Regions from separate parts of the Homo sapiens genome. Here all the other regions are linked to region 1. Evidence: fine-mapped expression QTL. A gene starts in region 1. Each other region holds a variant in brackets. All regions are shown on one strand. Distances are from middle to middle. Region 1 holds the start of SLC38A10 (solute carrier family 38 member 10). Region 2 holds the start of TMEM105 (TMEM105 long non-coding RNA). Region 3 overlaps SLC38A10 (solute carrier family 38 member 10). Region 4 overlaps AATK (apoptosis associated tyrosine kinase).

Evidence for each region.
Region 2: its variant is fine-mapped to the expression of SLC38A10 in whole blood (TOPMed, PIP above 0.99).
Region 3: its variant is fine-mapped to the expression of SLC38A10 in whole blood (TOPMed, PIP 0.95).
Region 4: its variant is fine-mapped to the expression of SLC38A10 in blood mononuclear cells (TOPMed, PIP 0.90).

What each region holds. Positions count from the first base shown.
Region 1 is chr17:81,291,886-81,299,216 of GRCh38, forward strand. SLC38A10 (solute carrier family 38 member 10) reads right to left here and starts at 3,422. Exons shown (of 16, transcript NM_001037984.3): 1 at 2,938-3,422. The coding sequence starts at 3,036. LOC124904082 (a long non-coding RNA gene) reads left to right here and starts at 6,021. Exons shown (of 2, transcript XR_007065941.1): 1 at 6,021-7,036. RefSeq lists silencers at 2,898-2,967, 3,068-3,337 and an enhancer at 3,998-4,087.
Region 2 is chr17:81,325,497-81,332,827 of GRCh38, forward strand. TMEM105 (TMEM105 long non-coding RNA) reads right to left here and starts at 5,178. Exons shown (of 3, transcript NR_165247.1): 1 at 4,648-5,178. RefSeq lists enhancers at 2,947-3,518, 3,519-4,090, 4,091-4,660, 5,804-6,374, 6,375-6,945. The variant A/C (reference allele first, on the strand shown) is at 3,926.
Region 3 is chr17:81,243,795-81,250,498 of GRCh38, forward strand. SLC38A10 (solute carrier family 38 member 10) reads right to left here. Exons shown (of 16, transcript NM_001037984.3): 15 at 3,091-3,267; 16 at 1,017-2,879. The coding sequence ends at 1,762. Among named protein-coding and RNA genes, the nearest start is that of NDUFAF8, 7.8 kb to the left of the region's middle. RefSeq lists enhancers at 889-1,008, 1,109-1,158, 1,369-1,458. The variant T/C (reference allele first, on the strand shown) is at 2,967.
Region 4 is chr17:81,158,569-81,165,899 of GRCh38, forward strand. All of the region lies in intron 1 of AATK (apoptosis associated tyrosine kinase), which reads right to left. It overlaps PVALEF (parvalbumin like EF-hand containing), which reads left to right and starts at 6,939. Exons shown (of 7, transcript NM_001354639.2): 1 at 6,939-7,179. RefSeq lists enhancers at 5,707-6,450, 6,451-7,194. The variant G/A (reference allele first, on the strand shown) is at 3,702.

The DNA.
Region 1 (7,331 bases):
AACCAGGCAGCACCACCGTGGCACACTAGGGGTCAGCAGTGTGCCCCGGGTAGGCCGCCACGGCCACAGAGTACGCTCCTTAATTTGGGAGCTAGTCACACGGGTTTGCTCGTCATATGAAAATTCATCAACAGCACATCTAAAGAAGTGTGTACACATTTTTGTATGTCAAACTTCAATGTTTATTATATATATAATCTATATAGATCTATATCTATATCTATCTAGATATAGATATAGATATATATTTTTGTTTGTTTGAGACAGAGTCTCACTCTGTTGCCCAGGCTGGAGTGCAGTGGCGCGATCTTGGCTCACTGCAAGCTCCACTCCCGGGTTCAAGCGATTCTCTTGCCTCAGACTCCCTAGTAGCTGGGACTACAGGCGCCTGACATCGCGCACAGCTAATTTCTGTATTTTTAGTAGAGATGGGGTTTTATCATCTTGGCCAGGCTGGTCTTGAACTCCTGACCTCGTGATCCACCCTCCTCAGCCTCCAAAAGTGCTGGGATTACAGGCGTGAGCCAACACGCCCAGCTATGTATATATATAAATATATCAAAACTACTAAAACAAAAAAAAAAACACTAATCCAAAGTTTTTCAATGCCAAGGCTGCCAAACACTAAACACACACATCCCCAAATCGCCTGCTGGCGTCTCCCTGCGCCCCAGTCCAAGAAGGCTGCCGTGGAGGAGACGCTGCGGCCAGATCAGAGCAACTGGGCCTCCCTCTGGGCAGCCCTCAGGACTCAGAAGGACGTCTCTAGTCCTTCACTTCCTGACAGGTCTGTGCAGATGCCCGGCTAATCAGCACATGCTCTGGCAGGGGCCTAATGTCCACCACATGGCAGGTGGTCCAAGGCTCGAGATAGCTGGATCGTCTGGGCCCTAAGATGTACTTTCACAGGTGTCTAAACCAGAGCCCCTTCCACGGTGGCACTTCACCGACAGGCATCAAAGATGACAGCATTTGGGGCCAGGCACGGTGGCTCACGCCTGTAATCCTAGCACTTTGGGAGGCCGAGGTGGGTGGATCACCTGAGATCAGGAGTTCGAGACCAGCCTGACCAACATGGGGAAACCCTGTCTCTACTAAATACAAATAAATAAATAAATAAATAAATAAATTAGCCGGCGTGGTGGCACATGCCTGTAATCCCAGCTACTTGGGAGGCTGAGGCAGGAGAATCACTCGAACCCTGGAGGCAGAGGTTGCAGTGAGCCGAGACTGCACCACTGCACTCCAGCCTGGGTGACAGAGCGAGACTCCGTCTTGAAAAAACAAAGATAACAGTCTTTGACTTGCAGGAGAAGGACCAGCTACTGCTCCACATGCCAGAATGCAGTTCTGCTGCCAGGCAAGTCACAGTGGACACTGGGACATGGAGTCAGTCCAGAAACACCCAGAGGTGGCTGGCAGAAAGCTGGGATTCTCCACGCCCAGACCAGATGCTGCCCGGGGGGCTCTGGAGGCATGTAGCCCTGTCTTCCCCTGACAGGCTCACCAACCATATCAGGCAAACAACTCAGACACAACAGCCTGGAGGGCTGCACGGGAGGGTTTGAAAATTCCTTGATCAAAAAAAAGTTGTTTTTTTTTTAGAGATGGGGTACTGTTGTGTTGCCCAGGCTGGAGTGCAGTGGTGCAATCATAGCTCACTGTAATCTCAAACTCCTGGGCTCAAGTGATCCTTCTGCCTCAGCCTCCCGAGCAGCTGAGACTACAGGTATGCACCACCATGCCCAGCTAACTTTTAATTTTTTTTGTAGAGACGGGGTCTTACTATGTTGCCCAGGCTGAAAAAATTTTTTGGATATTTTTATTCCAAAGATAATGAATATGAAAAACACAGTGTTTGCTAAGCTAATCTAAAATTAAACTACTGGTGCCACTTTGTTTCAAAATATACATGTTGTTTTCATTTTTCTACCTACTTGGTAACGTTTCAGTCAGCCTTTCTTTTCCAAAGCACTAAATGCTTGTTTATTGTAGATTAAACAGATGACACTTAGAAATGGCCATTTTCTTTCATGTGTTATTCAATGCTGGAATGACGCTAAACTTTTTGTATTTGAGATTTTTTCCAACTGTGGTAACGTCTGCACACATTAGATCAAATGTGCAGTTTTTTGTTTTTGTTTTTGAGACGGAGTCTCCCTCTGTCGCCCAGGCTGGAGTGCAATGGCGTGATCTCGGCTCACTGCAACCTTCGGCTCATTGAAACCTTCGCCTCCCAGGTTCAAGCTATTCTCCTGTCTCAGCCTCCCAAGTATCTGGGATTACAGGCATGTGCCACCACCCCCGGCTAATTTTTGTATTTTCAGTAGAGATGGGGTTTCAGCATGTTGGTCAGGCAGTTCTCGAACTCCTGACCTCAGGTGATCCACTCGCCTCGGCCTCCCAAAGTGCTGGGATTACAGGTGTGAGCCACCACCCCCTGCCAAATGTGCGGTTTTTGTGAAACGCAGATCTTAGGTGTATAACCTGGTGGATGTTTTTAATCACCTTGCAACCAAGGTCCCTATCTAGTGTCGAAGCCTGGGAGTGGTGAGTTGTGTGCTTCTGAAGACAGGTGCAGTTGGGTCAGAGTTTTTAAAAACACGATAAAATGTAAAAATACGGAGTCCCACCGTTCCCTTCCGATTCTGGAGGATCATTTTGCTTTGTTACACTTTGCTTCGGTATCGAGTTTTTGAGTGTGGGGAACTTTCCGGCCCGGGCTGACAAGGGCTGCCAGGGCCAACGCCGTGCGCTTCTCATCCACGGATTCTCTACGGGAACTGCGCCGGGACCCAGAGGGTCGCCCCGCCCGCGGCCGCCTGCACCCGCCCAGCGAAGCCCTGCCCCGGCGGGAACTTTAACCAGGACGACCCAGCCAGACGCCCCCTCTGCGGGGGAGGCGAGGGCGGTGATCTCCGGGCCCACCGGACTCACCTGTTTGAAGCAGAAGGGCATGGTGAGGACACTGACCCCTACGATGCTGTTCACGATGTTCGTGATCAGCCCCCAGTTGGAGGCGGCGGCCGCGGTCATAGTGAGAGGTCTAGGGGCCCGGGGCGAGAGGCCTCGGGGGTCGCCGGGCTGCGGCCGGCTTTGGAAGCCCAGCCCGAGGCCACGGTCACAGGTCCCAACGTCCGGGACGCCGGTGGGGAGGGGATGGGCAGCCTGAACACGGGAGCCTGAGCAGGCGCGGGCGCGGGCCCCAGAGGCTGCCTGGAGGAGGCAGCCTCGAAGGCCGGCTGCGGGGGCGAGGTCAACCTCCGGACCCCGCCAAGCCCTGCGGCCGCCTCAGGGCCATGCGTCCCTCGCTCGGCCTCGCGGGCCGCCTGTGAATCTCCGAGCCCAGACCCGGAAGAGCCGCAGAGCCAGCTAGGGACACCTCAGCCCAACTCAGCTGCCGCCGCGGCGCTCACACTTCCGCCTTCCACGGGCTCCGTTGCCCGGAAGTGACGGCCAGGGGGTAGGGTTTGGTGGGACGCGAGCCAATGAGAGGCGGGCCCGGAGGGGCGGGCGGAAACTGGGCCGGTGGGCACCTGAGGGTCTCGCAGCTGTCCGGTTCGCCAAGCTGGTCCAGCCGACCTGTGCCCGGGGCCCCAGTTCAACGAGCTGGAGGACAAGGGACTCGCCCCGCGAGGCCTCGGTTTGGATGGGCAGTCGCGGGCTGGAGAGAAGGGGAGGCGCTGTGCCTTCCGGGGAGGAGCGGGTTTAAGGGTTCCTTTTTGACCTTTATTCCCAGGACCGATTCTGGGGCGAGTGCTTGGCGCCAGGGCACGGGGGCGGGGGCCCTGACTGCCTCAGCCGAAAAATAGTCTGTTGTGAGGAATTAGCACCTAGGAGGTAGGAATGAAACGCTGGGCACAGAGAGGCTCGGCCACTCCGCTAAGGCCACACAGCTCCAAGGGGAGGCGGTGCCCTGCCGAACTGCGCCCAGATCAGTGGCAATGTTGAACTTCACCTTTTCACACGAAAAGAGCAAGGGACATTCCTGGAGGGGACAGGAGAGGTGGAGGCTTACATGAACAGGGAAACCCGGGAGGGCTTCCAGAAGGAGGTGGCTTCTAGGCTGGAGCTTGAAGGACAAATGAGAATTCCTCGGGTAGAAATGGAGACCGGGGAGAGGAGAGAACAGAGAAGGGTCCCGATAGATCTGTGGATTCCTGGCACCTAGCTGCTCACTCTGAGTCTAATGAATGAGCGCGTAGACCGAATGGCTGGGAAGCAGCAAGTGATTCCAGGCTGCTGGGGGAGGACGGCGGAGGAAAGGAGGCCGTGTCTGCAGCACCTGCAGGACCAGGTGTCTTAGAACAGAGGCCCGTTCCTCAGGCACTGGCAGTGCAGCCACCAAGTAAGGCTGTGCCCCACCTTCAGGAGAACAGGAGGAAATGCCTGGGTAAAGACTAATTAAATACGCAGGCAAAATAACAAATGCCTGCGTTCTTTTTTTTTTTTTTCTTCAGTCAGAGTCTTGCTCTGTCGCCCAGGCTGTATATGCAGTGGTGTGATCTTGGCTCACTGCAACCTCCACCTCCCAGGTTCAAGCTATTCTCATGCCTCAGCCTCCCAAGTAGCTGGAATTACAGGCTCCCGCCACCACACCCGGCTAATTTTTGTATTTTTAGTAGAGACCAGGTTTCACCATGGTGGCCAGGCTTGCCTCAAACTCCCGACCTCAGGTGATCCGCCCACCTCGGCCTCCCAAAGTGCTGGTATTACAGGCATGAGCCACCGCACCCAGCCCATTTACTTTTATATAAATGAAATGGCATACACATTCCATAACCTCCTTTTTATTATGTAATTTTCATCAAATGTTATGCATGCGAGGTAGGCTGGGCAATTTACATGTATGTTTTCACAAATAGCAAATACCATGGACCCGCTATTGAGCTTTAAGAACAAAATATTACCGAAGACTTAGATCCTCCCTTTCAGTTCCTCCCCAGTTCCAGCACCTTCTTCCCCTCTTCCCTGCTATCCTGAGACATCACAATCCAGATTCCATCAATTCATTACTTTTCTTTAAAGGTTTACCATATATGGATATATCCCTAAACAATTATGGGGAAGACTATTTGTCTCTTTTTTTTTTTTTTTTGAGACAGAGTCTCACTCTGTCACCCAGTCTGGAGTGCAGTGGCACAATCTCAGCTTGCTTCAGCCTTTCCCTCCTGGGCTAAAGTGATCCTCCCACTTCAGGCCCTCAGTAGCTGAAACTACAGGTGTGTGCCACCATGCCCAGCTAATTTTCACTTTTTTTGTAGAGATGGGATTTTGTCATGTTGTCCAGGCTGGTCTCAAACTCCTGGGTTCAATCGATCTGCTCACCTCGGCCTCCCAAAGTGCTGGGATTACAGGCGTGAGCCACTGCGCCCAGCTGACTCTCTGTCTCTTAATATTCGTTTATTCCATTTTCCAAATTAATAGGAATTGGCCTGCACGTATGACTGCCTAGGATAAAAAATACACTTCCAGCCGAGCATGGCGGCTCACACCTGTAATCCCAGCACTTTGAGAGGCCGAGGCAGGCAGATCACGAGGTCAGGAATTTGAGGCCAGCCTGGCAAACATGGTGAAACCCCATCTCTGCTAAAGATACAAAAAATTAGCCAGGCGTGGTGGCGCGCACCTGTAATCCCAGGTTCTTGGGAGGCTGAGCCAGGAGAATCGCTTGAACCCGGGAGGCAGAGGTTGCCGTGAGCCAAGAGCGTGCCATTGCACTCCAGCCTGGGCAACAGGGCAAGACTTTGTCTCAAAAAAATAAATAAAAGACTGGGCGCGGTGGCACACGCCTGTAATCCCAGCACTTTGGGAGGCCAAGGTGGGTGGATCACGAGGTCAGGAGATCGAGACCATCCTGGCCAATATGGTGAAACTCTGTCTACTAAAAATACAAAAATTAGCCGGGCGTGATGGTGTGTGCCTGTAATCCCAGCCACTCAGGAGGCTGAGGCAGGAGAATCGCTTGAACCAGGGAGTCGGAGGTTGCAGTGAGCCGAGATCGCGCCACAGCACTCCAGCCTGGCGACAGAGTGAGACTCCGTCTCAAAAAAAAAAAAAAAGAATACACTTGCCAGTGTCCCTTGCAGGTAGGGCTGGCTATGTGACCAAGTTTTGGACAATAAGAAGCAGAAATGACAGGAGAAACTTCTAGGTCATTTCTTAGGAGGGGGTCTGCCGCTCCTTCATCATGCTGTTTGGAACCTAGACACGATGGTAGGAAGCCATCTCGGACAGTGCAGACAAGGGTGATACCGTGGCAGAGTGGAGCACCAAGCTAGAAGGATCCTGGATCCCTGGACAACTCATGGAGCCAAGCCACCATGCCCATCCACGACTACCTCCTCCCAGCTGCTCTGGGAGGGAGAGACAAACCTGCTCCTTGCGCTCACCATGATTTTGGACTCTGTTTCATGAACCCAAAGCTGTAGCCTACCTAGTTCAGTAGTGTATTGGGATGGGGCACCTTTGCATTTTGGACTATTGTAAGAATTGAATTACATATATGTGCTATTCTGCAACTTTCTTTTTCACTCAACTTTGTCACACTTAAATTTCTTTTTTTGTCTTTTTTTTTTCCTTTTTGTGGAGAACGGGGTCTCACTGTATTGCCCAGGCAGGTCTCGAACTCCTGGGCTCAAGCCGTCTTCCTGCCTCTGCCTCCCTGAGAGCTGGGATTACAGGCATGAGCCACCACACCCGGCCAGTTCAACTTTGTTCACAAGAATTGCCATCATGTTGCATGTGCTCTGAGTCTCATTCTTGCTGCTCTGTGGAACTCCGTTACTTAAATAGCCCAGATCCGCATCCATTCTCCTGCCGAGGGCACCTGAGTTGTGTCCAGTCACTTGCCTCAGAGACAGTGATCCAGTGAACAGATTTGTCTCCTGAACGTGTGTTTGTTCAAGTCTCTCTAGGGTAAACACCTACAAGTGGAACTGCAGAGTATGCGTATGCATACCTAAATGACTTTACTAGATCTTGCCAAATTGCTCTTCAAAGTAGCTATAAGAGCTCTTCCTGGTTTACAGCAAAGGTTGGCAAACTTTCTATTAAGAGTCAGACAGTAAATATTTTTTGCTTTGCGGGCCTAATGGTCTCTCGCAAATATTCAGTTGTGTCATTAGTCTCTCGCAGTGCCAAATGGTCTCACAAATATTCAGTTCTGCCATGGCAGATCAGAAGCAGCCAGAGACAATATGTAAACAAGTGGGCATCTCTGTGTTCCAATAAAACTTTATTTACAAAAACAGCAGCTGGCCCAGTGCGGCCTCAGGGCTTAGCTTGTGGGCCTCTGCTCCAACATTTGGTTATTGTCAGTTTGGCCAGTC
Region 2 (7,331 bases), 34 kb after region 1:
ATAAGGCCCCTGCCTTCTGGGGGACCCTGAGATGCTGGGGAGACTGGAGACTCTGGGCCATCCCCAAACCACTGCTGTCACTTGAGGCTTAGCATTGCAATGCCTGGGCATCCCTGAGTGCCACCGTGAGCCTGTGTGTCTCGTGACACGTGTGCAGATGTTATTCCCGGCACAGATACTGAAGGGCGATGCGTGCACTCAGCAGCCAGGAGGGTTGCAGGGCCAGTGGTGAGAGGACCAGGTTCTGGCTCAGGCTCACACTCTGAGGCCCCCAAAACCCAAACCACGAACCAGGCAAGGCTTCATTCTCAGCCACAGGGGAGGCCACGCCCACCAGCACCTGCCCGACGCCGGGGTCCACCTCCAACAGGTTTCTGGCGGTGGGAAAAAGTGGAAGATGCAGGCCAGAGGAAGGATGCTGCCTGACCGACCACAGCCAGCTCTGCCTAGCAGCCCCGAGAGCAGGCAGAGGAGGGAGCAGGAAGAGACCACAGCTGATCCCAGCCTTCCTGGCCCTGACGATTTCACCTTCCCCATCCAACCTTTGAATGAGAAGCAAAGTGGGCCAGGCACCATGGCTCATGCCTGTAATCCCAGCGCTTTGGGAGGCTGAGGTGCGAAGATTGCTCGAGCCCAGGAGTTTGAGACCAGCCTGGGCAACACAGCAAGACTCCCGTCTCTACTAAAAATAAAAACATTAGCTATGTGTGGTGACACATGCCTGTGGTCCCAGCTACTTGGGAGGCTGAGATGGGAGGATCACTTGAGCCTGGCAGTTTGAGGCTACAGTGAGCCACGATTGTGCCATTGTACTCCAGCTTGAGCAACAGAGCAAGACTCTGTCTTTTAAAAAGAAAAAAGGCAAAGTACAGAGGCATTGCCTGTTATCCCTGCTGCCAACGGGTCTGGCCCTCAGAAGGGATGGGTTGCCAGATGACGCAGGTGGGCCCCTCCTGGCCTTGCACAGGGTCCCCCCTCCTTTTTTTTTTTTTTTTGAGACAGAGTCTCACTCTGTCACCCAGGCTAGAGTGCAGTGGTGTGATCTCGGCTCATTGCAACCTCTGCCTCCCGGGTTCAAGCGATTCTCCTGCCTCAGCCTCCCGAGTAGCTGGGACTACAGGCGTGCACCACCACACCCAGCTAATTTTTGTATTTTTAGTAGATACAAGCCTCAGGCTTCAGGCCTCTAGAGCCACAAGAAAACGAATTTCTGTTGTGGTTTTTTTGTTTTTTTGGAGAGTCTCACTCTGTCACCCAGGCTGGAGTGCAATGGTGCAATCTCGGCTCACCACAACTTCTGCTTCCCAGGTTCAAGCGATTCTCCTGCCTCAGCCTCCCAAGCAGCTGGGATTACAGGCATGCGCCACCACCCCCAGCTAATTTTTTGTATTTCTAGTAGAGGCGGGGTTTCACCATGTTGGTGAAATTGGTCTCGAACTCCTGACCTCAGGTGATCCACCTGCCTCAGCCTCCCAAAGTGCTGGGATTATAGGCATGAGCCACCTCGCCCGGCCCCAACGGACCCATCTTCAAGTGTGTAATTCAATGGCATCAACTCCATTCACGATGTTGTGCAACTGTCACCTCTATTAATAGTTCCAGAACATTTCATCATCCCAAACAGAAACTCTGTACTCATTAAGCAATATCCCTCCCACCCTCCGCCCCCCCGCCAGTCCCTGGTGACCCCAAATCTTCTGTCTGTCTTTGTGAATGGCCTGTTCTAGAAGTTGCACAGAAGTGGAAGCACACACCACGTCCCTTTCTGTCTGGAATTCCTCAGTTAGCATAACGTCCCTGAGGTCCATCCACGCAGTAGCGGGTGTCAGATTTCCTTCCTTTTCCAGGCTGAACCCTGTTCCACACGTGGCTAGACCACAACTTGTGTGTCTGTCCACTCATGGGTCGACGGCACTTGGGTGCTTCCACCTCCTGCTGGCCGTGACCAGGGCTGCTGTGGACTCTGGCGCTCTCGTCTGCACCAGCTGCTGCCTTCAGTTCTCTGGGGTCTGTAGCCGGAGTGGCATCGTTGAGTCACGTGGGAATCCTGTGCTCTGCTTTTTTTCTTTTCTTTTCTTTTCTTTTTTCTTTTCTTCTTTTCTTGAGACAGAGTCTTGCTCTCTCACCCAGGCTGGAGTGCAGTGGTGCGATCTTGGCTCCCTGCAACCTCCACCTCCCGGGTTCAAGCGATTCTCCTGCCTCAGCCTCCCAAGTAGCTGGGATTACAGGTGTTCACCACCACGCCTGGCTAACTTTTGTCTTTTTAGTGGAGATGGGGTTTCACCATGTTGGCCAGGCTGGTCTCAAACTTCTGACCTCAGGTGATCCGCCCACCTTGACCTCCCAAAGTGCTGGCGTTACAGGCGTGAGCCACCGCACCCGGCCTATGCTCCACTTTTTGAGAGGCCAACAAACCCCACTTGCTTTTTCAATCCAGATTTTAACCTTTGAGGGAAAAGAAAGATTTTTGTATCTATTCCTGGGCCGGGGTAGGGGGGCTGTTGGGTGAGGAACACCCAAGAACGGCTCAGGTGAGAGGGGTGGCCTCTAAGACCACATGGCCTGGACACAGCCTGGCAGGCAGACCGAAGCAGCCGGGGCTGCCTGGAGGGCCTCAGTTCTGCTCCTCCCCAGCTGCAGGATCTGAGCAGGAGGCCTCCTCACTCTGCGCCTCAGTTTCCTCATCTTTATCTGGGGACGGAGCAGCCTCTACCTCTCAGAGCTAGTTGCGATCATGGTGGCAGCTGAGGCCCAGCCCTGGTATGCAGTGAGGGTTCAACTGAGCCAGCCCCCACTCGCCACAGGCTTGCCTGGGGAAGACAGGTGCATCAGCCCCGGGGTCCATTTCGCAGTGGGGCTGATCCCAGCCCACCCTCACCCGCCCGGGAGCCTCGCCCTTCACCCCATGCATCTTCTCCCCTGAATCACCCCCAGGGTCTCCAGGGCAGGAGCAGGGCTGGCAAGGGCAGGGCTCACAGCCCCATAGGGAGGACACAGTGCCCGCAAGAGGGACTGGGCAAGAGGTGGACAGGCAGGGGGTGGGGGCATTCTGTGTGCCCCAGAGCCTGAGTTCGCAGGCTCTCAGCAGCCCGTGCTGGGCAGCAGTGTGGGCGTCTCTCCCGCAGGGCACCCTCTGCACTTTCCTGCAGACCTGCAGCAGCCCTTTCCTGAGGGACACCTGGCTCCGGGCCCAGGGTGGGGGCGGGGCCTCGCGTGTCTCCCCCTTGATTTGTAAGAGTCCAGGGCTGTCGGCCATGGCCACACTGAGCACCCCTGGGAGCCAAGGCAGCTTAAGGACAAGGTGTGTATGAGGACGGCGGGGCCCAGGGAGGAGAGGCTAGCCCAGGGCTACCCGGGTCCCCGGAGTAGGGGCAGGGGACTTGAAAATGAGCCCCCAAGGGGCTCTGATGGGGGCAATTCCAGGAGAGGCGTGGGCAGGTGTGGGGCTGGAGAGAGGCCTGTCCTTTTTCCCTTGCCCTGCACACTGTCTGCAGGGTGGCAGACCCAGGCTGCCTGGCGAGGCTGCTTCTGGAGGCCTGAGGAAGGCTGGGCTGAGGACTCCGCCTCTCCTCAAAGCCACAGCCTCCCTGCTCTGGGGCTACATGTCGGGAAAATCCCTGCCTGGGTTACCCCAGCTGGGGACTCAAGCTCTCTTTGGACCCTACAGAAAGAGCTGGCCAGCCCCCAGGCCAGAAGGGCCGTCCGTGACCCACAGATGGCCCCAACACACTGTAAAACACGCATGATTTATTTTAGTGTGTGTTAGAAAAATAAAGCCAACACATCAAGCCTGCAATTTCGCAGATACTAACACTTCGGACCAGGAAAAAAGAAGCCCATGACATGGCACAGCGCTGTGGAGCGAGCGAGATCTGGGATGCGTAGGCCTGGACGGCTGAGGCTTGGAAACCCCTCCCCTCCCCAA[A/C]CTTTCCCACCATGCAGGGGCCCAGCAGGCCCTCAGCCCACTCACCCCGCCAGAGGAGGGAGGAGGGAGGAGGGTCCGGGCCAGGTGGGAGCTTCTCCCCGGAGGCCTGAGGCAGCTTCCCTCCTCTCCCAGGAAGGGGCTGGCCCAGGCCCAGCTAGGATGCTCCCAGCCCAGCTCCTACCCGCCGGGTCTTTCCCGTTTGTCAGGCAGGCCGGCAGGCTGGGCTGGTGACTCATGACTGGCTGGGCCATCTGCCCTGCACCCCTGCCCCGGGCGAAGTGAGAAACCTGACCGGGCTCCAGCACAGACAGGAAACCCCACCCCAGGGCCTGCAGTGGGACAGGTGTGGCCGCCCTCCACCCCCACACAGGCCTCGGGGAGGGTGTCTGAGGCCGGCCTGGCCCTCTCTGCAGCACTGAAACACCAGCTGCCTCTCCCCAGCCCGGAACTGGGGATCCAGTGTCCTCCGCACTGACCCCAGGCTCTGCTCTCCCTGGGAAGCACCCGCTTTGACAGTGGGGCCAAGGACTGGGGTTCCCACCCTCCTCTGCCCAGTGGACTTTGTGGCCCCAGGCAGGTGGCATCAGCTCTCTGGGCCTAAGCTTCTCATCTCTGCAGGGTTCATCAGCTCAACAAGCATTTGTGGGTTCCTGAGACCTGAAGGCTCCACTCCCCCACCTAAGCACACAACAGTCCAGGCACCACCCACATCTCCCTCTTACCTGGAGCAGAGGGGCGGGTGTTCGGAGCCTTGGGGCCCAGGGTCATTTGCACTGGAGGGGGCCAGGAACGCTCCCAGGAGTGTGGCAGTCCCTTCCTAGGGGGCCCCTCCTGGAGCAGCTGCCTTGAGAGCCCAGCCTACAGCAGAGCCTGGTGGGGTGGCCGGGCTACTGCTACCTGGCTTCACTGCTTTCTTCTGCCATTCCTCCCAGGCTACCCAGGAGGACGAGAGGGGCAGGGTACTGGCGGCAGCAAGAGAGAACCCGCCCAGGAGGGCCCAGCACGGGAACTCCAGCCTCCAGAGCCAGCAGAGCCACGGGAACAGGAGTTCCTCCTCACAGAGGAGGCGCTGTTGGAGGGCCAGGAGCAAACTCCCAGCAGAGCAAAATGCAGAGGTGACCAGCCCAGGGCACACCAGCCACTGAAAAACCCAACAGTGGGGGCTGCCGTGGGGATCCAGGGTTGGGGGACTCTCAGACGGCCCCCCAGGCTTGTCCCCATGCGTATTCTTTGAGCTGATGGGGACGCAGTGTTCACAGTCCTGACAGGAGGCAGGCGTGACCCCAGTCGGGGAGTGGACTTGGCCCTCTTCACACCCCCAGGGCAGAAAGCCCTGTTCAGAGGTACCAGGGAGCAGGCACAGGCCAGGGTCCGAATTCGTAACAAGCATCCGGGACTCCACATGACGCAGGTCTGAGAATCGATCCCGGGTTCCAGCCCAGCCATCATTTTCAGAGAATACGGGCCCTGTCCCGAGCCGCCAGCCATTGCCAATGGCTGCCCGGAGGAAGGGAGGAAGGGGTGCCCCCAGCTTGTGGAACCAACAAGGGCTTAATGGTAGGGCACGCCCAGGGGCAGACGCCAAGAAAGGAGAGGAGGGGGCGGGGGCTCCGGCCAGGGAAGCCGTGTCCTCTGCACCAGGCAGAACAGGGGGCTGGGCCGCCCTCAGCCTGGATCTGGCCAGGGCTGGGATGCCAGCTCTGAGAACAGGGCCCAGCCCTCACCTGCTTGGTTTGCCTCTTGCCAGGGGAAGGGGCTCAGGAAGGTTTCTGAGCTGCCCCATGCCCCTGCCTGGAGTTCCTGACCCTCGGGGGAAGCTGAGGCTACAGAGAGCACGAAGTGCAAAAGGCCTGGTGGTTGGACCCAGAGCCCCTGTCCCTGGGTCCCCGCTCCTCCCCACCACCCCGTCCCAGCTCTCCCACGCTCCCACGAGGCCACATCATCTTCTGCTCCTGCTGAGTTCCCCTTCACGCATATGAAAAGCAAATTACAGGAGGGAGAAGGCAAACCCGGGGTGAACGGGGGCCTCCTGGGACTCCTTGGACCCCCGGGAGAGCCTGTGAGGGCTTCTATGGGCCGACTGGGATCTCAGGAGCAAAATAGGGGCCCCTAGCCCACAGCGGAGGGCGACTCTAATCAGCAGAGATCGCCCAGCATGCCTTATCCTCAGCAGCTCAGGGCCACCTGTGGGGCAGGGGGAGGGGGCCTGGCCAGCTGGGTCGGCCGCCCCCGGCAAAGCCAGGGGACGCCAGGAGCGGAGCTGTGTGGTGCAGAGCAACTGTGTCCCAGGGGAGGGGGGGTCTGTCTCCGCTCCTCCCAGCTGCAGGCCCTGGGCAGCCGCAACCTCTCAGAGCCTGCCTGCCCCTCTCCTGAGGTCTGGATTTTGCCAGCACAGAGCAGGGACCTCAGCAATATGCCCAGCCTGGCGCAGGCCCAGGGCAGGCCCTCTATCCGCAGGGCATCCTCTGGTCTACAAGTTCTGTGACGACGTGGCTGGCACCAGGGTCTGAGGGCTTTGATGCTGGGGAACGTCCTTGCGCCTCTGCAGTAGATGTGAAAGTCTGTGGAGCCCGGGGACCTGGAGCAGGTGGCCTGGGTGGGGCTGCTGCCTTCTGGGCCAGGACCAGATTCCACTCCCTGGCTGGACAGCCCTGGGCACAGCGTTTAAACACCCAACACTTCAACTCTGCTCTGTGAAACGGGGATGATTCTAACAGTGCTGGATCACGGCATGGTTGGGAGGCTTGGGTGAGGTCATGTGTTCCATGATCCTGTCCACACGAAGGTCATGCAGCCTTGGGGGGCACTGGAGCGGCAGGTGTGGTTTTGGGGACCTGCCACGGGCCACAGCCCTAGACCAAGCCGGACCATCGGGACTCTTTTCCTGGAATTTGAATGCTGAGCCGAGGGACACTGGGCTTGTGCTGGGGCCACTCCCGAGCCGCTGCTGTTGGGGCCTGAACAGCGCCTTCCCCCTGCCCTCCCTGCTGCAAGCTCCAACCAAATACCTGCTCCCGGCTTCAGTTAGTCAGAGTCCACTTCTGGCACCTGCAGTCAAATTTATTGATTGATTGATTTGAGAGAGTCTTGCTCTGTTGCCCAGGCTGCAGGGCAGTGGTGAGAATAAGGCTCACTGCAGCTTCGACCTCCTGGACTCAAGCGATCCTCGGCTTCCCAAGTAGCTGGGTCTACAGGCACACACCACCACGCCTGGCTAATTTTTGTGTTTTTTGCAGAGATGGGGTCTCACTATGTTGTCCAGCCTGGGCTCAAGCAATCCTCCTGCCCTGGCTTCCCAAAGTGCTAGAATTACAGGCATGAACCACCATGCCAGCCGAAAGTGTCTCTGCACATCTGCACAAATAAAATGTATTTCTGTACGTACACTGATTTGTACCCAGAAGCC
Region 3 (6,704 bases), 48 kb before region 1:
GTGGTGCCCCTGGCCCCACAGCCCCCTCCCAGCCTCCTCCCAGCCCCCTCCCAGCCCCTGGCCCCGCAACCCCCTCCCAGCCTCCTCCCGGCCCCCTCCCAGCCCCCAAGGCTCGGCAGGAGTCACCACTCAGCCTCCAGAAGCTTCCCTCTAGTTAATTTCCAGTCTTCAGGCCAGGTGCAGTGGCTCAAGTCTGCAATCCTAGCACTTTGGTAGGCTGAGGCGGGTGGATCACAAGGTCAGGAGTTCGAGACCAGCCTGACCAACATGGTGAAACCCAGTCTCTACTAAAAATACGGAAAAAAAAATTAGCCGGGCGTGGTGGCGGGCGCCTGTAGTCCCAGCTACTCGGGAGGCTGAGGCAGGAGAATGGCGTGAACCCGGGAGGCGGAGCTTGCAGTGAGCCGAGATCACACCACTGCACTCCAGCCTGGGTGACAGAGCGAGACTCCGTCTCAAAAGAAAAAAAATTTCCAGTCTTCAGGCTGCCCAGTGACATCCTTCAAGGGAAGAAACTATAATAAAGAGCCAAAAGGATATCAAAAGGTGCAGGAAGACACCACCAGAGGCTGAGGCCGGCCCTCCATGCAGGGACCCTTCGCCAACACGGGCCTCCCCCAGACCCAGGCCCTGGTCCTCTGCCCTTCGTGGCAGGGTTTCGTGGCAGGGTTGGGGCGCAAGCTCCCCAGAGGACGAGCCAAAGCAGACTCGGATGCTGTGGACACAGCAGCACCTCCTCTCTCCCGCCAGGTGAGAGGGCTGTGGAGCGTGTCCTGGTCACGAGGCAGCACGCCCGTCAGCCTGGCCCTGGGGGCTGGACCACCTCCTGGCACCAGGCGGCTCTGCCTGCTCACAGGGTCTCTCTGGGGCTGTGCTGCGTCTAGTGTCCAGTCACTGCGACGCTCAGGTCATGGCGCCGTTCCCTCATGACCTCTGGCCTCTGCTTTACACATCTGGAATCCTGAGCCGGCCTCAGGCTTTCCTTTCAGTCACTCCCCCAGGACCAACTTCACTAATCAGGTTATCAGTGGTGTTTTTTACTTTTTAAAAAAAGCCACAATTGGATTTTGAAAAACACAGACAATGGAGGGCTGGGCCAACCATGAGGAGTGCAAAGGGCGGCACCGGCCAGTGCCCCTGGACACCCGGCTTGTCTGGCCCCTGCTCCCTGTGCTTCCTGGACACCAAACAGCATCCACCGAGGCTGGGTGAAGGCAAAAGTGTTTATTCAAGACTTTCTACCACACTGTGGGAAGCATCGATAAACAGTCATAATAATTATCATTCTGAGTCACTGCAAGCGTGGGGTTGGATGCTGGCTCTCACAGTAGCCTGTGTTGGGACCATGAGCAGCCATGCGCACCTCCACGCACGGCCGAGCTCAACCCGAAGACCACGCGTGCTCCCTGGCAGGAGCAGGAGGCCTGACCACAGACGCAGCAGCTCCCCAGCCTGAGCCTGGGAGTGCACCAGCCAGCTCGCAGCGGAGGCCGTTTCTCCTCACAGGCTGGAGTGAGCTCAGAGTCTAGAGGTCAGAGGACCTCAGACTAAGAGCTGCAACAGAACGACAGCAAGAACATTCTGGAAACGATGCCACAGTGAATCTTTTATACTGTCACTCACACTTGGTGAGGGCCTCAGACATGAAACCCTGGGGAGAGGCGAGTGTGACCTCCAGAGTTTGGCTGGGATGCGGCTGAGACAGACCTGCTGCTGGCCGAGGAGGGCAGTGGCTGGCGTGGCCCTCATGGCCAGCAGGTGCTAGGACTCCTCTGGAGGCCCAGGCGCCTGTCTAAGCTGCCGGCTGTGGACCACCTGCAGAGCTCCCCCCGCAGCCTGGCGGAGCTGGGCATCCAGGGCGCCACGGAGGTCGTTCACCTGGACATCAGGCAGGGGGTTAAGGCCAATGATGACCCCATCCCTCGGGGCCAGCTGACCCTCTGCATGAGGGCCAAGGTCCCGCCGTCGCCTCCGGAGGTCGGAGCCAGCCTGCAGTTTCAGGTCCCGGTTGGGCTTGGCATTGTCCGGCCTCTGGCCCCCCGGGACAGCTCGTTTGAGCCCCAGCTCTGGCTCTGGCCTCTGCCTGGGCTCCTGGACAGCAGCGTCCTCCCCGCCTCTCGGCTGCTCGTGGGACACAGGCACATGGTCCCCCCCGCGGGCCTTTCTCATCTCCAGGTGACCGCCATGGTCCAGCCGGTGGCCCTGCTGTCCACCCTGCTCGCCATCAGAGATGACCCGCAGTTCCGGCTGGCGTAACACAGCCTGGGGCTGTGCAGCTGCTCCTTCCGCCCCACCGGGCAGGTCCGCTGCAAGGCCCAGGTCTCGGCTCACTTGCTTGGGCTTCATGCGAGGGTCCCCCGTCTCTGCTCCTGGCCCTGCCACGAGCCAGTTGGCTTCCTTCAGAATGCTGGTGCCAGTGGCTGCCACCTCCTTCCCAGGTTTTTTCCTGTCTTGGGAACCGCCAGTAACGTCCTGACTTTGCCCAGGGAATTCCTCTGCGAGGCGCTCCTCTGGGCCCCCGGCTTCCCTGGCGGGGTCTGGCACGGGCACCTGCTCCGGGCCCTTGGGGAGCTCCTTCACAGTGCCAGCTGCCCTGGGGGCGGCATCCTTCTGGCCATCTCTCAGCTTGGCCTGGGCTGCCCGAGGCTCTGTGTCAGGGCCGCCGTCAGGAGGGCCAGCAGGGTCTCTGCCCACAGGCCCCTCAGAGTGCTCCAGGGAGCGCTGGTTAAGGTCCTGGGATGGAGCAGGGCGGCCCCCAGGAGCTCTGAGGACAGGGTCCAAAGGCAGGGGAGGCAGATTCTCCACCGTCTCCCTGGCCTTGCCTTCAGGGGCCTCCTGGCCTCTGGGCACCGCTGCCCCGGGCTCTTGATGCACCTCCACTGCAAATGAAGTCGGTCATCAATTTAGCCACAGCACTGTACACAGGCTGCCAGTGGAGGGGCTCAGAAGAACCAGCAACAACAGCA[T/C]TGGGAACCAAAACCAGACTCACGCTCAGGTCTAGAGGCCACCGAGCCTCAGACCCAGCCGCATGAGGACAGCAGGAGACCCCCTGCCTGGCCCCACCCCACTCCATCCGCCAGCCCGGCCTACCCTGCCTGGGTTTATCCTCCTCGTCCTCCTGCCTCTGCTGGTGGATCTCCTTGTGCTGCTCCTCGATCACCGCCAGCAGCTTCTCCTGCTGGTCCAGCAAGCGCTTTTGCTGCACCTGCTGTTCTTTGATCACCTGAAGCAGGACGGCGTGGTCCAGCATCTCCGCCCTGCCAGCTTCTGGGTTTGGAAAGCACACAGTCAGAGTGCCCGGGCTGCTCATGCACCGTGCTGGGCCAGGGACGGCGCGGCCCACAGCAAGGCAACGCACAGGTCACCTGCAGGGAGTGTGCCCGAACACTGGCCACTGGTGACACCCATCATGACTGTGACCGTGAAGCCCGGACAGCTCAGTGATGCACGCAGGCCTGAGGGCCCGGGAGAGGCTGCGCCCTGACTGCCCCTGGAAGCCCACCCGGGATGGCCTCTCCCGCACAGCCAGCCACTGTGCCGCATCAGTTCTCCCACTGGCTGTGCCCCAGGCGCACCCGGCAGGACCCCAGCAAGCCTGCTCGTTGCCCATGGAAGTGAGTGTCCAGAGCAACAGTCAAAAGGAATGTGCCAGAATGTCAGAGATGGTTATCTGGGCTGGGTGGGGTTTTGTTTTTGTTTTTTCCACTTTACACATTCAGTTGTTCTAGGACAAGCACGTAAGAAAATAAGCCTGGGCACGGCGGCTCACGCCTGTAATCCCAGCAATTTGGGAGGCGGAGGCAGGCAGATCGCTTGAGCCCAGGAGTTAGAGACCAGCCTGGGAAACATAGCAAGACCCCCATCTCCACAAAAACAAAAAAAACAAAAAAATAAAAATGATCAGGGTATGGTGAGAGGCGTCTGTACTCCCAGCTACTCGGGGGGCAGAGGCCAGAGGATCATTTGAGCCCAGGAGGTCGAGGCTGCAGTGAGCCGTGATCACACCACTGCACTCCAGCCTGGGCAACAGAGCAAGACCCTGTCTCAAAAAAGAAAAAAAGAAAAGAAAAACTGTAAGCTATGTTTTGAAAAGAATATTGGTACTTCTAGAAAGTTTCCTCCGAGATGAGAATTTTAAAAACAAACAAAAGCTGTCTTTTTTTTTTTTTTTTTTTTTTTTGAGACGGGAGTCTCACTCTGTCACCCAGGCTGGAGTGCAGTGGCGCGATCTCAGCTCACTGCAAGCTCCGCCTCCCGGGTTCACGCCATTCTTCTGCCTCAGCCTCCCGAGTAGCTGGGACTACAGACGCCCGCCACCGCGCCCGGCTAATGTTTTGTATTTTTAGTAGAGATGGGGTTTCACCGTGTTAGCCAGGATGGTCTTGATCTCCTGACCTCGTGATTCGCACACCTCAGCCTCGCAAAGTGCTGGGATTACAGGCATGAGCCACCGCACCCGGCCAAAAGCTGTCTTCTAAGGGGAGCATGGGAGCTGGAGCGTCAGTGAGGCCCCCGCCAGCCATCCTAACCACCGCTCCTGAACACCATCCACTGTGGAAATTCTGGGCAGGTCCTGCGTGATGGGGAGCCCCAGTGCACCCCGTGTTAAGAGCTGGTGCCTGCAGCAAGGGCCAGAGGACAGGCCTGCCCGGGTTACGGCTGGCACACACTTGGTGCAGGAGCACCCGGTCTGACTCGCTTCAACACTGGCCAGTTATTTGCCGCAAGCGGCTGTGACTTATGTCATTTTTACAAGATGTTTTCAAATTATTATAGGAAGCTTTGAAAAATGATGGGTTAGGGCTGTGAGGCATAAAAGTTCAATCCAGGAGCGAGAAGGATGTTTTGTGAGTGGTGAGAGCAAATATCTCAGGGACGGCCCTGCATGCCAGGCATAGACTGACGTGCCGGCCCAGCCTCCCCAGTGGTGACACCATGACCAGCCAGAGAAGTGCAGGGTCAGCATTCTCCCAGGAACGCAGCCCTGGGCCTCGCCCAGACCCCTGGATGTGGGGGACAGGGCTGGCTCCAAGGAGATCAGGGCCATGGGGCCGGCCCTCAAGCAGCAGCCCCTGCTCCCTGCTAGCACCCCGGGCCAGACGCCTGCCTGCAGGGAAAGGCCATGACGGGCAGAGCAGGTCTCCCGCACACCTCCTTTCACAGGAGGAAGTGCAGGTGGCAGACCAGCCACCTCGGCCGTGGGCCACGTGCTCGCCCTGGGTGCTGCGGGGCTCAACCACGGAATGTCAATGGTACAAGGACGAGATCCCATGTGCTGGTGACACCTCCCCATACTCCAGGGCAGGGTTCCGAAAGAGCAGGCACCATGGCCTCACTTGCTCCTCAAAGGACTAGCCCTGGGCCTGGTGCTGGGAAGAGGAGGAAAGAGGAGACAGAAGGGAGGAGGGGGAGGGGGAGGAGGGAGGGAGAAAGAGGAGGAGGGAGAAGGAAGGTGGGGGAAGAGGAGGAGGGAGGAGGAGGAAGGAGGGAAGAGGAGGAAGGAGGGAAGAGGAGGAAGGAGGGAAGAGGAGGAAGGAGGGAAGAGGAGGAAGGAGGGAAGAGGAGGAGGAGGGAGGGAAGAGGAGCAGGAGGGAGGGAAGAGGAGGATGAAGGAGGGAGGGAAGAGGAGGGAGAAGGAGGGAGGGAGAAGGAGGGAGGGAAGAGGAGGGAGGAGGGAAGAGGAGGGAGGAGAGAAGAGGAGGGAGAAGGAGGGAGGAGGGAAGAGGAGGGAGGAAGGAAGAGGAAGAGGAGGAAAAAAGAGGGGGAGGGGGGAAGGAGCCATGCCACGTCCAGCCAGAAGCCACGTGGGACACATGTGAAGCACCGTGGAGGAGACAGGCTGTTCCTACAGCCAGAGCCCACCAAGACCACGGGGACTGGGCTGCAGAAGGCACGAAGCCACCCACCTGTTGAGACCCATGCAGATCTGTCAAGGTGGCCCATGAGGCAGCAGTGCAGGCAGCGTCCCCCCTTGGCTGGTGCCCTAAGCAGCCTGCACTCAGACGCTTGCAGAGACCAGCTGCCCTCTGATGACAGGCAAGGCCACAGCAGGGCTGAGAAGGACCACGGCATTTGTAACACAAGGGAGCAGAGTGGGCATCGGGACCCTGCCTGAGGGGCTGTGGCTGAGCCTGGGTGCGTGCGCAGGTCTGGGGCCTGACACGTGTCCCCATGCAGGGCTGTCCCTGGGGCAGGTGTGCCACCGAGGGGCTGCGCTCAGGTCTGTGGCCCGCCAGACAGGCTCTTGACTTCAGCACACTCCTTTGGGTTCGTACCTGCTACTATCTTTTTAATTTCAGCTGCTCGTCCCGTTGAGAGGCATACGGAAGAAAGGCAGAATAGGAAACCGTGAAAAGTCTTTTTCAGAAAGAAGAAAATCAAAAGAATCAAACAGGTTCAGGTAACAGAGCATAGGAATTGGAACCAACAAACATGGCCAGACTAAAACCGGAGACAAAACCCCACATGCCCGAACTCCTGAAGTGGCTCAGAGCTCCGGGAGCCCAGGGGGCGCCTTTTGGCTCTGCCTTCCGCGCTGCAGGTGCAAGGAGGGCGAGCTGCACCTGGAGAAGCCAGGCCGCAGCGACTGGGACGTGGCTGCTGCACCTGCCCTCCCTCGGACCGGCTGTCCTGAGGCCACAGGGCAAGATGCGCGGGCAGGAAGCGTGTGTCTTACGAACATCCTGGGAGGTGCCCGTGCCAGG
Region 4 (7,331 bases), 130 kb before region 1:
TTGTGTCCAGGACCTGCCCACTGCCCCGAGCCTGGCTCCCACAGGCCAGCTGGCCAGGGCTGCCCGACACCAGGTACAAACCACCAAAAAATACCTCCAATGGGCACTCGCTTGAGGGGCTCAGAAGAGCTGGGCAGGACCTGGAAAGGCTCCTGACATCTTTCGCCACAGAAAGGCAGACAAGACCACCATGGGCAGCCCCCACATGCTCACGAGCCCGGGCGTTATAAAAACAGCAGCCAGCACTGGCGGGAGGGGAAGCCATGGAGGCGTTCGTCCATGGGGATGGGGGCAAAATGGCACCACCTCCTGGAAGCTCCCTGGACAGTGCCCCACAGTCACACACCAGCACCCCTGATCCCTGGGGCCGCTATACACACAGCGAAAACCTCAGGGCCCAAAGAGGACAAGGCCACAGGACCCTGCTTATGAGACAGACGTCCAGGCCAGGGGCCCAGAGACCGAGACAGATCGGTGGCTGCCAGGGCTGGGGGCAGGGGATGGGGAGTGATGCCCTCGGGCATGGGGCTTCTGTCAGGGGCAGGGATGCTCCACAGCTAGCCGTGCCATGGCTGCACTCTTGGGAATGCAGGAAAGCCCCAGCTGCTCATTTGACACAGGTGGGTCCTTGGTATGTGAGTTACCTCTCAGTAAAGGGGCCCTCACTCCAGCGTCCACGATAGCAGCCCACGGGACAGCCCACAACTGAGCATCATTCACAGAGAGCGAGCGAGATCCCCAACATGGGGCAGCTGGGAGGGCGCCGGCGGCCTGCGAGTGACCGGCCAGGTAGCAGTCCTGGGGGCAGTGGCGGGGACTCTCGGGGGCTGGGCGTGCTGCCGCGCGGGTAAATCCAATGCGGGGAAGCCCCGGACCCGCACCCCGGAGGTCAGAGCGCACTTGTGTGTGCCGTGGTCACTAGGAAGCCACACGCCTTTTTCGCAGGGGGTTCGAGGAAATTCCACGTGGGCCTCACAGCGGAGCCCAAACCCTAAGCAAGCCCCACCGGCTGCAGAATCCGCAGGACCAAGTACCAAGGGAACCCAAGGCCCCTTGTTCAGAGTCACTAAGAATTCCCAGAAGCAGAGCAGAAGGGAAGCCAGAGGGGCCCCACCGAGCACCAGGGCCTCGTCGGAGGATCCTCACACCGAGGACGGCATCCCCAGCTCCATCCCACAACGGCCTCAAGCCACAGCCTCAAACCGTGGCCTTGGCACAGAGGTGACTCGGCAGAGCCCTGGTCCCGGACCAGCTCCCCTGCCCCCCAGCCTGGCTCCCCCAGGCCAGCTGGCCAGGGCTACCCGATACCAGGGACAGGGAGGGGTCTTCCTGGGGACCCTGGCAGGTGGGTAGAGCCAGATTCCTGTCCCTCAGCAGCAGGGACCCCACACCCTCCCCGAGGGTGAGATGGGGATAGGCTGGCCACGCCCCGCCGTGAGAGGTGGCCTTGAGCAGCCCTGGCTCGGGGTAGCATCCTGCCCCTCACTCCCCCTGGGGCAGGTGGCCCCGGCTGCCCAGAATCGCCCACTGCAGAGGCCCTGCCTGCTCTGGCACGGCCACCTCCGCTGGCAGGGTCCCTGCAGGAGCAGGAGTCTCCTGGCCACGGCCCCCACCCCCAGGCTGGCAGTGGGAGCACAGCCCGCATCCTCCCAGAAACCCCCACGTACCAGGCTCTGGGTGTCGCTCCCGCGTGGCTCTGACCGTGGCTGTAACCCCAGAGTGACCCCCGGGAGGACCCCAGCCCGCCCCAGCCCCACCCAAGGCCGCAGCCCCCTGACCCCAGGCCCCGGTCCCTGCGGAGGGAGGCTGGAGACCCGGCGAGGACGCCGCCTCCCGTGACAGTTCTCAGAGGTGCCTGGGAACTGGCTCCGGCCCCGTCCGCTGCCCTCATTTCCTCTGCCGGCTTCCTCTGCGGGGGGGCGGGGAGGCCAAGGCCGCCGGTCCCGCGGGCGCTTGTTCCTCTGTGAAAGGCAGGGCAAGGCCCAGGGGGGCCCAGACGCCAAAGCCCTCCTGTCACTGTGGCCTGCGGAGGGGACGGGAGTCTCCCCACCACGGACACGGGCTCCTGGGCCCCTGGATCTGTGCCACCAGGGACAGGACCGCAGGCCGAGGCCCCACGGCAGGTGCTTTGCATCAGGCTCCCACCCAGGAGTGGTCGAGTGGGCCTCCCGTCAGCCTTGCCCTGGCGTGCACAGAGGGGTCAGGTGGCCCTCGAGAAAAGCCTACCCCGGAAGAACCCCGTGAGCTGGAGACAGGAGGCCGGTGACAGCAGAACAGCGTGGTCCCAGGCTCACCGCCGACACCACATCCGAGGAGACACCGAGGTGCTCCGTGGACCCTCTGCCTCCCCCGTGGACCGAGGAGGAGGCAGAGGATGCCACGCAGCTGTGGCCCCGGCCTGCTTCCTCCTCACACCCAGCCAAGCGCCCTGGAGGGTTCTGAGGCTGGGGGCTAGCACGTGGCCTCATTTTCTTCCAAGGATAACTCTTCTCAGGATGGAGTCAGAGGCTCCTGATGTCTCGAGGCAGCTGTGCTCACCCCTCAGACCCAAGGAGACCCCCAGATGTGTGTCCTGGGACCACGGGCTGCTGGCCCAGACGGCAAGGAATGGATGTGCTCACAGTTCTGGACAGTGGAGGAGGAAAGCACGGCATGGGCAGGGCCACTCCCTCGAGGCGCTGGCGGGATCCTTCCTGCCTCTCCGGCACAGCGGCCCCAGGTGCTCCTGGGCCTGCATCACTCCAGCCTCTGCACGTGGCCTCCTTCCCGCGTGCACGCCACTCCTCCTCTTTCTATCAGGCCCCAGTCATTGGATTCAGGGCCCACCCTACTCCGGTCCGACCTCATCTTAACTTGATTACAGCTGCAAAGACCCTAGTTCTAAATAAGGCCCCATTCTGAGGTACTGGGCGGGCATGGGTTTGGGGTGACATATTCCACTCAGCACATGCCTCCAGGGGGCACAGGCAGGAGCACAGTTCCCAGGCGGCCGGGGTGGTGGGTGAGTGCAGAGAGGACGTGAACAGTCACCAGCCCTGGAGCTGCCGTGACGGCCCCCGGGTTCTCTCAGGAACCTCCTGGAGCGTGGGTGCTGCCGGACCCCATTTCAGAGGTGAAACAGACACAGAGAAGTTATGAGACCTGTCCATGGTCACACAGCAGGGCCCGGCCCAGGACACCAGCCCACGCCAGAACTCTCCCGTGAGGCAGGGTCAGGGTTGGGAGCCGGGGAGGCAGAGGGCATGGCGGGGAGTCGATGCATCCCAAACATGCAGGGTGGCACAAGGCAGACCTTCCAGCATGTTCCACACAACACAACAGCTGCCAGCCCACCCCAGCCAGCTCTGGGGCACTCGGGCCCACAGGGTGGCCACTGCAGGGGCCGGTCCTCTGGGTCACTGCACCACCCCATGGAGGGAAGCGCACAGCCTGGCCTCCTGGAGAATGTGCCGGAATGAGAGAAATGTTCTCCCTGACCCATGCCTGGGAGTGTGGGGCCTCACACCCACCCCCTCCCCGAGTGCCGACACCCACACCCTCCCCGAGTGCCCGCACCCATGCTGGTAGGTGGGAGCCGGACCCGTGCCCAGGGCCCACGGCCTGCGTGTGACCGCTCCCCAAGGCCACTGTCCACACAGCCTTCCCATGGGACCCTCTCCAAGAACCCACCTCGGCCTGCACACCTGCAGCCTAAGGGTCTC[G/A]GTGGGAGACCTGAGACCTGAGAGGAAGTAGGGGGATGGGCCGAACTCATGGGCACAGCTTCCTCTGGGGCATCCTCTGAGACCCCGGGGGCGAGAGGAGGACAGGTAACTCCTCCCAGGGCAGGTGCTTGCTGCCTGAGCCTGAGTGGTCTGGGAGACTGAAGCAGCAGCTGCCTTCAAACAGACTCCACACCTGGTGCCCGGGCAGTGTCAGCTGTGGGGCACCTTCCAAGGGGAGGACTCCCGGGGACCACCCAGGCCCATGGCCTCCTGCTCAGCCCCTTGAGCCCCTGAGTCCAGCCCTGCCCCTGCCACTGAGGCCATGCCTGGCCCGGGGCTCGCTGCCTCCTCTGCCCTCTCCCCATCAATAGGCTCATCCTGAGGCCCAGCCTGCCCAGCCCTGTGCCAGGTGTCCGGTTCACATGAATGCTGATAGAGCGAGCACCGTGGCCAGGCACAGGCACTTCTCCCAGGAACCCCCCATGGCGCCTGGTTCAGGTCAGACACAGGGAGAGACCTTGGGCAGGAGACAGGGCGTGAGCTGAGGGACAGGGGAGAGGCGGGGGTTGGGGGGTGGCAAATCCAGGCTGCCACGTGTTCCGAGAACTTCCACAAACTCCAAGCCCTGCCCACTGGTCAACAGTGACACCTCTGCGTCAGGGATCAGCCATGGTAGGCACTGCCCAGGTACCCACCCTTGGCTCAGTGCACCACTGCTGTCCCTTCAGACCTGGCCATCACAGCCATTCCCACCTTACAGATGACAAAACAGGCATGGAGAGCCAGTCACAGAAGGGCCCCTCAGCAAACCAGAGGTGGCCCCAGGGCAAACCCCTGCTCCTAACTGTGCAGAGCATTTGACCCCCACCCTCAGGCTGAGCGCGCCTCTCCAGAAGCCGGAGCGAGGCGGTGTCCCCATGCCCACTTCCAGCCTAGGACAGCTCCAGGCCCCAGGGCTCAGGACGACTAGAAATCATGACGCCCTGAGGCCGCACCAGGGAAGGTGAAGGCTGGGGAGGGTGAGCAACAAGGCCAGCCCCCTCCCTTGGGGCACTCAGGTAGAAGGGGTGACCTCTGCTCGCTCAAGGCCATGCCACCCCCTTCCTGCCAGCCTGGACCCGGCCATCCTGCCCATGTGTCACCCCCATCACCCTGCTTTTCCTGGCCGCCATGCCCACACTAGTCTCCCCAGAGCAAGATTTCACATGTGCAGAACGGATCTCAGAGAGGCTGGGTGAGTAGTCCGAGGCCACACAGCACAGAGGCTGGAAGGCTGCAGCTGCCAAGAAATCCCCCAGCCACGCTCCCGAGTGTCAGGGAGATGGGGGAAGAGCTGGGCTCCAGAGGAGGCGGCTCTTCCTGGCACTCAAGCAGGCTCCTGGGCCGGGTGCCCCCTGCCCTGCCCGCATCTGCCTGGTGCGGAAGGTCAGGGGCCCAGGCAGCCCACAGTCTGTGCCCACAGCCTCCACTCTCAGGCCCTGCACTATCGGGCGTCTCTGCCCCCTGTACCACCACAACTGCCGTCACCTCTATGGAGACTGGCACCAGTTCCTGCGATGAACAAGGAGCCGGCCCGGCAGCGGGGCAGGGCCTGGCAACTGAGGTGAGACCCCCATGTCAGGTGCTAGCACTGCCCCAGATGCTGAGTGACACACAAGCCAACTGCCAGAGCCACAAGCGTGGGCCCCTCCCCTCTGGGTGCCCCCCCACAGACACAAGCAGCCTCAGAAGGAACCAGCTCGCTCCAATTCGGGGATGGCAAGGAGCCAGCCACATGCTGTAGGAAGCTTGGGCCCTGGGGGTCTCTGTCCCAGCACCACCACTCCAGCACAGACAGCCAAGTGCTCACCAAGCACTGAGCCCACCCGGGCCTGCCACAGGTACTGTCGGCCCATGTCATAGATGGGAAAACCGAGGTTCACAGAGGCAAGGCCAGGCAGAGGGACTGCAGCACAGGACAGCCAGGCTTGGAAGGCTGGGCTAAGTTTAGCGGGAGGGCAGGAGACCCCTCTCTCCTCCCTAACCCTCTCATGGGGGCTGGTGCAGAGCCTAGACCCAGCCCCTTAATCCGAAGGAGGGTCTCCTTCCTCACCAGCACCAGCACCTTGGGCAGCCCCTCCTGGTAGGTGGGCCCCAGAGCCCAGCAGGTGCCTGCAGCTCTGGCCCAGCATCTTGCAGAGGAGAGACGCCCCTTGCCTCCAACAACTTCTTTTCCTCTAAGTCATTAAACGGACACATTAGAATTATTCAGATCACAGCTGTTTACCCAGAGAAGGGCAGAGCCGGTGCTGCTCGAAGGCGGGGGAAAGGGCCTCTCATGGCCAAGGACAAGGCTGGGCCCCGAGGCAGGGTATGGGCCGAGGGTCCTCTCTGTTCTGGGGGCAGAAAGGACCAAGCACCGTGGGCCACGCCTGGCATGGAGATGTGATGAGGACCTGCCCCAAGCCTCCTCCACCCCCTGCCCTTGGGCCGGGGAGACATTACAGCTGTTGCCGTGGCTGTTGGGCTCTGAGCCTTCACCTGCCCACCCCACAGGGACTTCCGAGCCCCAGGGGTCACTACAGGAAGTCATTTCTGAGCAAGTGACACCCACAGCCCTAAGCCCAGCAGACAGACCTCCCACCAGCTCCCTTCCTCCAGGGAGCAAATGCCTTCAGACCGAGATCTGCCCCGGGGACCCCCGTGCCTCCCTGCCAGGCTGCGTGCACTGGGCCCTGCTCCAGGGAAGGAGACACAGGAGATCACGTCACATGCAAACAGGCTTTGTTTGGGCTGGCTCAGCCTGGTGCCAGAGCCCCAGTGACGTGTGGGTGGGACTTGGCCCTGGGGCCATGGATGGCACAGGGCAGGGGGATTATCTCCCACTCAGGCCAAGCAGGGGCCGGATCTGGAGAAGCAGAGGTTTTAGAAAGCCCACTGCTTCCTGGTGACAGATGGGGCTTCCAGCTGTCCCCAGCCCCCTCTGCCTATCCCAGCTGTCCACCACAGCCAGGAGGCCAGGCAGCCATGGGTAATCTCGCCCTGCCCGGTGCACTGGCCATACGGGGTAAGAGGCCTGGCCTCAGGTCCCCTGCAGCCAGCTTGACAGCGTCACCTCGGGCCCCCACTGTCAGGGGATCTGGGCACCCACCAAGGCCCCTCTCTTCTGAGCCTCTGCCCACTGGGCTCTGTAATGTGGACTGGCCCCTGCTCCCCCCACATCCCCCGCCGGCTGCTGGTGGCTGGGCAGGGCTCTGAGAATCGCTCCCAGCCTGGGAAGAAGCCTCCCACGCCAGGGCCCCGGACCCAGGAGAGGCCATGGAAAGCCTGAACCCCAGCTGGCTGACACCCCCCACACCCCCAAGGGCCCTTAGTCTGAGACCAACTCTCCTGGACACCAGGGGCCCACGCAGGCCCTCCGTGCCCCAGTTACCTGTGCCCTGGAGGCAGCCACGGAGTCACGACCACGCGGGGGACGCCAGCCCACAGGCGGAGGCCGGTTTGTGCTGGGGCCCAGGGCCTGCCCCTCCGAGATCTGGGGCCGCCAGGGGGTCCGGCTGCTTCTGCTGCTGGGCTCGGGGCGGGGAAAGGGTTAATTTCCATGCAAACCGGGAGCCGTGGGGCCCAGGGGCATCACGTCCGCAGCGGAGG